2 separate regions of the Homo sapiens genome follow, and region 2 is reported to be linked to region 1. Evidence: microRNA targets listed by miRTarBase, many of them from high-throughput screens and not tested one by one. Region 1 holds a microRNA gene; the other region holds the end of a gene's coding sequence.

Region 1 (3,510 bases):
TTGCAGTGACCAAGATCACTCCACTGCACTCCAGCCTGGGTGACAGAGCAAGACTCTGTCTCAAAAAAAAAAAAAAAAAATTGGGGGTGGGCACAGTGGCTCACACCTGTAATCCCAGCACTTTGGAAGGCCGAAGTGGGTGGATCACCTAAGGTTGGGAGTTTAAGACCAGCCTGGCCAGCGTGGTGAAACCCCATCTCTACTAAAAATACAAAAATTAGCCAGGTGTGGTGGCAGGTGCCTGTAATCCCAGCTACTCAGGAAGCTGAGGCAGAAGAATCATTTGAACCCAGGAGGCGGAGGTTGCAGTGAGCTGAGTTCACACCATTGCACTCCAGCTTGGGCAACAGAGTGAGACTCTGTCTCAAAAAAAAAAAAATTGGTTTCTATCTCATAGGGCTGTTTCAGGAACAAAAAGAGTGAACTGTGTAGAACGGCACCTGCGCACAGTCAGAACATGCTAGAGGTTGCGTTGCTATTACTAATATCACCACGTTGCACTCACAACCGAGGACGGGAGAGACTGCTTGAGATGAGAGCGGGAGCTGAAACTCAAACCCAGCCCGATCTCTCTCCTCCTCCACTTCCCCCATGGTCCCAAGAAGTCTCTTGCTTTTAGAGGCTGTGGAGAAGTGGCACTATGACACCCAGGGAGAGGCAGAGGACACATGGGCAGCCTGCTCCACGAGGGTGGCAGGTGAAGGCTACGATACCCAGGATGGGCCAGAGATGCTGGGGTGTGCCCGGGTTAGGAACACTCAGAGTGAGGCAGATTCTGGGCCTTTACATGCTGGCGGGGTCCCCGGGTTGGGGGAGATTAGGCGGGTTCTGTACAGCCCTGGGGCTATGGAGGCAGGTTTTGGCTCAAGGCACAAAGGACTTTCTCATTGTCAGGAGTGCCGAGGAGGGCTAGAGATAGTGAGGGAAGGTGGTGCGAGCCCCATCCTCCGAGGCATGCAAGCAGGGCCCAAGCCCTATCTTCAAGCCCCACCCGTGGTCTGTGATGTCCCTGCTGGGAGAGGTCTCCCTGGAGCATGTCACCTTCTGAAGACCACGCGAACCTGGGGAGTTCAGCAGAACCCTGAAATGGAGCTTGGGAGATTCAGAGCAGGAACTCTGGGTGCCTGGCTCACCCCAGCTCCTCTCCAACCCTCTGCAGTTCCCTCCACCAGGAATGGTCCTCCCTCAGAGCTGGGTATCCCCTCCTGCAGGAATCCCCCCTCACCTGAGGACACTCTTAGTGGATTAGGGACTCTCCTGCCTGTCCCTTGTGAGCACCGAGAAAGCCATGCCTGTGTCCCCAGCACCCACCCTAGGGCTGGCCCCAGTGGCACTCAATAACTGCTAGAAAGTGATGGCTGGAGGCAAACCACTACCCCTGCAGGGGCCCTGAGAAGAGAAGGTGGAGAGATGCGGCAGCCCCAGAGCCCTGGGGTGACCTGGCCCCTTCCCATCCCCCAGCCCCCCTCACCTGGAGCACAATGGCTGGCACCGAGAAGATCATGGCTTCGTTGAACACCGGGTTGGGGTCATCCCTCTTCACGGCTGTCTTCTTTTTGCTCATCTTCCTCCCATCCTGCAGCAGGTACACCTTGACGAAGGGGTCTGTGGGCAGGCGGACAGGTGAGGGCCAGTGTCACACTCACTCACCACAGCCCTGCCCAGTTTGGCTCCACCCACCGACTCCAAACTCCCCAATGCTTAACTGTTGCTGTGACCTCCTGCAGCCCTGCCATTGGTCCTTTATTATTTTTCCCATTTCACAGATGAGAAAACTGAGGCTCACACAGCACGTCAGGTGAGGGCTGGGCTTTGTGCTCAGGCAGCTGCCTCACAGCCCACGCGCTCCCCTCCTAGGATGCTCTGGGGAACTCAGCAGCCCCACCGTGTTCCTTCTATAAATGGCCCGAGTGCAGACGTCAGCCCTGAGTCACCGGGCACCCGCACAGCAGAGCCTGACTCAACCGTGTGCGGCTCTGAAATAACAACTTGCCGTCTGCCCATCACCTATTGCCCACGGGGTGTCCTTGCCGCACCTGCCTGGAGCTGCCCCCCCCACCTACCCCCGCCCCAAGGCTTGCAACTCCCAATAGATCAGGCTCCCCCAGCCCCTGGTCTTCAGTTCTCTAGAATACAGCTGCCTCCACGGTCACTGCTTTGAGAGGGACTGGGGACTCCTGCAGACCTAAGGCATCGGGTCCTGCCTGGCACCCACCCCAACCCCGTGGCCCTGGTCCCTTTTTGGAGTCTGGGATACTGCCCTGTCTCTGGGAATGGAGTCTCCACCATGAATTCCAGTTCCAGGGAACAGATGCCCACCTTGGTTCCCTGCCCAGTGCCCCCAGCCCTGAGTGCGGCCTCCTGCCCTGAGACCCCCGCATCACTCTGACCCCCTTCACTCTGCCCTCACAGGGGCCCCTGCCACCCTCCAGGGATCTCATGTTTCCCCGGCTGGATTAATTGTCCCCATGCCACCCCCTATCCATCTGCATGACTTCTGGGCTCAGCAAAGCTGAGGGGGACCTTGGCACTGTGTCCCACACCTGCCGATGCCTCCGGGTGCCCACAGCACAGCAGCTGGGCCACAGCTTCCACTGAGCTACGTGGAGGAGCCGGGCTGCCGGCTGGGCCTTACCCGCTGTGGTCTTGTCGTTGGTCCAGATGAGGTTCTTGGCCTTAACCACGACCACGGTGAGGCGCTCGGCTGTGGGGAGGTAGCTGAGGGAGAGCAGGATCTCCCCCACAGCATCGGCGGCCTGGGGGACAGACAGGTGGCTCAGAGGGCTTCTCCCCACCCGACTTGAGGGGTCCAGGGAAAGCCTTGGTTGCCAGGGAAAGGCTGGGGCTTCCTTCTCCATAGAGAAGTGGCTGCACTGGGGGCCCCTTACCACAGGGCTCCAGGCAGGCAGGGACAGCCTGGAGAAAGGGACAGCCACCCACCCCCCGCCACTGCATGGAGCATGCCCCACTCCTCCCTTCCACCGGGAGGGTCCTGCCTGGGGCGGAGGGTCAGAGGCGGCCTGTCAAATGTAGCTATCAAATGTAGTTTCGTTCCCTCATTGCAGGCCAAGGAAAACACTGCGGTAGTAATACACAGCGATCAGAGTGGAATGGAATTAGATTCTTTGATTAAACAACAATGATGTTCTGTGAGCATTCCTACAATTATAAAACTAAAGTGCAGCTTGGTGTCTGTCTGAAATCATCCCCTCTAAGGCTAGAGGAATGTTTCTCTAGCAGAAGCTCAGTAGGGGTAGAACCTCTGAAGCTTTGGTGGCAAAGCAGCAGACGAGCTGTAAACAGTGGTCGGGATGTTTTTGAAATTTGCCTGCAGCAAGCAGTTTCCTCGGATGTGGCTCAGGTCTTCTTCTCTGCTCTCCTAATGATGATGGGGCTCAGGCTATTGCAGAGGATGATGAGGATGATGGAGTCCCTTCCTGGAAGTGTATGTGTGTGCACGCTCTTCCGAGGTGGACGAGCAGGCAAGTCACTTACCTTGTTCTGGTCCTG
Region 2 (3,000 bases), not on the chromosome of region 1:
GGCCACTGGCTGCTGGGGACTGGGGACTGGGCAGAGACTGAGCCAGGCAGGAAGGCAGCAGCCTTCAGCCTCTCTGGCCCACTCGGACAACTTCCCAAGGCCGCCTCCTGCTAGCAAGAACAGAGTCCACCCTCCTCTGGATATTGGGGAGGGACGGAAGTGACAGGGTGTGGTGGTGGAGTGGGGAGCTGGCTTCTGCTGGCCAGGATAGCTTAACCCTGACTTTGGGATCTGCCTGCATCGGCGTTGGCCACTGTCCCCATTTACATTTTCCCCACTCTGTCTGCCTGCATCTCCTCTGTTCCGGGTAGGCCTTGATATCACCTCTGGGACTGTGCCTTGCTCACCGAAACCCGCGCCCAGGAGTATGGCTGAGGCCTTGCCCACCCACCTGCCTGGGAAGTGCAGAGTGGATGGACGGGTTTAGAGGGGAGGGGCGAAGGTGCTGTAAACAGGTTTGGGCAGTGGTGGGGGAGGGGGCCAGAGAGGCGGCTCAGGTTGCCCAGCTCTGTGGCCTCAGGACTCTCTGCCTCACCCGCTTCAGCCCAGGGCCCCTGGAGACTGATCCCCTCTGAGTCCTCTGCCCCTTCCAAGGACACTAATGAGCCTGGGAGGGTGGCAGGGAGGAGGGGACAGCTTCACCCTTGGAAGTCCTGGGGTTTTTCCTCTTCCTTCTTTGTGGTTTCTGTTTTGTAATTTAAGAAGAGCTATTCATCACTGTAATTATTATTATTTTCTACAATAAATGGGACCTGTGCACAGGAGGAAATTTTATTGTCTCTGATTTCAACTGTGGAGGTGGGTGGGGAAGGGCTGGAGGCCTGGGTGCGGGGGTGGGGGGGGTCAGTCAGGGGCAGGACCACTGTGTTTTGGCCGGGACATAAACACTTAAAAAAAAAAAAAAAAAACGAGATCCAGGGAATTGTGAAAAATTGGAGCTGGGCCGGGTGCGGTAGTGAGCACCTGCAATCCCAGCACTTTAAAAGGTCGAGGTGGGAGGATCGCTCGAGGCAGGAGTTTGAGACCAGCCTGGGGAACATAGTGGCACCATCTCTACAAAAAGTTAAAAAAATTAGCTGGGTGTGGTGGCTCATGCCTGTAATCCCTGTACTTGGGGAGGTCGAGGTAGGCGAATTGCTTGAGCCCAGGAGTTTGAGGCTGCAGTGAGCTTTGATCGCACCACTGCACTCCAGCCTGGGTGACAGGGCGAGACCTTATCTCTTAACGAAAAAAAAAAAAAAATCGAAACGGGCCTCCAAGGTATCACCTTAAAAAAGAAATTAAATGGGCCCCCAAGGTATCACCTTGTCCACTGTATATGGGTTGGAGGGTAAACCCATATACAGAAAACAGCGTATGCCCGGGACCCCGGTGAAGGGTTGGGGACCCCAGGAGGGACGTCCCCACGTGGGCTCCCAGCTCCGAGGTATGGGCCACCTGCCACCCCCACCCCGCTGTTGTTGCAGCTTTGTCTGGGCAGTCAGGCTGGTCTGTTCCTCTTTGCTGAGTCACCCTACAGGTCCCCCTTCCCAGCCTTTGCACAGCCGGTCCCTGCTTCCAGCCTGGAATGTCCCTTTTCCCTTCTCCACCCTCTGGATCCTGCTCGTCCTGAAAGCCCAGCTCCCAGCCTCCTCCCCCATGAAGTCTTCCCATTCTCTTGGATGGAGAAATTATTATCAGCCCTGTTCACATCCCTGAGGTGCTGAGGGTCACCAAATGCCTTTCACCTGGAGGGCAGCCTTCAAGCCACGCCCAGAGCTCGGCATTCTGATCCCTTGATCGATGAGGAAACCAAGTGTGGCCCAGGCCCAGACCTACAGCTTGGGATTTTGGACTCCAAATTTGGGTGGGGGAGCTGTCCAGGACAGGACTTGGGCCTCAGCAACCACTTGGGCTTGGCCTTGGCCTTGAGTCTCTGCCCTGCTACTGTTGTGCAAAGCATGTTCCAAGCTTGCTCAGGCTTCATTTTCTTGTCAGTAAGTTAGAGGTGAGCGGACCCAGCACTCTGGAAGGAGGGATCCAGGGAGGCCCCAGGAAGGGGTCTTCTCCATCATTTCTTGCTTTTTTTCTTTTCTTTTCTTTTTTTTTTTGAGACAGAGTCTTGCTCTGTTGCCCAGGCTGGAGTGCAGTGGTGTGCTCTGGGCTCACTGCAACCTCTGCCTCCCAGGCTCAAGTGATTCTCCTGTCTCAGCCTCCCAAATAGCTGGCATGCACCCACGGCACCTGGCTGATTTTTCCAATTTTTTTTTTTTTTGAGACAGAGTCTCGCTCTGTCACCCAGTGGCACCATCTCAGCTCACTGCAACCTCCGCCTCCTGGGCTCATGCAATTCTCCTGCCTCAGCCTCGCAACTAGCTGGGATTACAGGGGTGTGCTACCATGCCCAGCTAATTTTTGTATTTTTAGTAGAGACAGGGTTTCGCCATGTTGGCCAGGCTGGTCTCGAACTCCAGACCTCAAGTGATCCTCCCGCCTCGGCCTCCCAAAGTGTTAATTTTTACAATTTTTCTTTAAGATAGGGGTCTCACTATGTTGCCCAGGCTGGTTTTGAACTCGTGGTCTCAAGAGATCCTCCTGCCTTGGCCTTCCAAATTGTTGGGATTACAGGTGTGAGCCACCACACCCTGCTACGTCTCGATTCTGGAACCCACAGGAACAGATGCCACTGTTTTCTGGGAGCTCATTTAATAGGCAGGGCATTTCTGAGGGGCAGGGTTGGTTCGGAGGTCCCATTTTACAGGGGAGGCAGAGGAGGCCCAGCAGATGGGCCCAGCTAAGGCCACATGGAGTCAGGGGCCAGCTGGGGGCTGGGGGCTGGATCTCACTTCCTCAACCTGGGTCGCCTTCCACTTTCGGTACAGGTAGACAATGCCGGAGATGAAGCCATCCTTGGCAGAGATGCCGGATACCACCTCCAGCTCGGAGGTAGCCAGCTCCCAGCGGTCCACAGGCGGTCCACAGGCCAGGCCACCAGGCCTTCCCACATCCCAGCCTGCTCCA

What was found. Region 1 holds the annotated microRNA hsa-miR-6860 (ACUGGGCAGGGCUGUGGUGAGU, at 1,645-1,666, opposite strand). A microRNA usually pairs through its seed, bases 2 to 8, with sites in the 3' UTR of a target mRNA and lowers its output. Matches are read on the target gene's strand: a 7mer-m8 pairs with bases 2 to 8, a 7mer-A1 pairs with bases 2 to 7 and ends in A, and an 8mer does both.
Region 2: the mRNA of METTL27 is a reported target of hsa-miR-6860. The part of its 3' UTR that is shown has no 7-base or 8-base seed match.

The regions. Positions count from the first base shown.
Region 1 is chr11:67,043,839-67,047,348 of GRCh38, reverse strand. MIR6860 (microRNA 6860) reads right to left here and starts at 1,706; the gene lies at 1,641-1,706. SYT12 (synaptotagmin 12) reads right to left here. Exons shown (of 8, transcript NM_177963.4): 5 at 3,496-3,510; 6 at 2,636-2,756; 7 at 1,472-1,605. RefSeq lists enhancers at 944-1,023, 1,124-1,253.
Region 2 is chr7:73,831,922-73,834,921 of GRCh38, forward strand. METTL27 (methyltransferase like 27) reads right to left here. Exons shown (of 6, transcript NM_152559.3): 6 at 2,669-3,000. The coding sequence ends at 2,822. It overlaps CLDN4 (claudin 4), which reads left to right. Exons shown (of 1, transcript NM_001305.5): 1 at 1-769. Among named protein-coding and RNA genes, the nearest start is that of CLDN4, 2.4 kb to the left of the region's middle. RefSeq lists an enhancer at 1-166.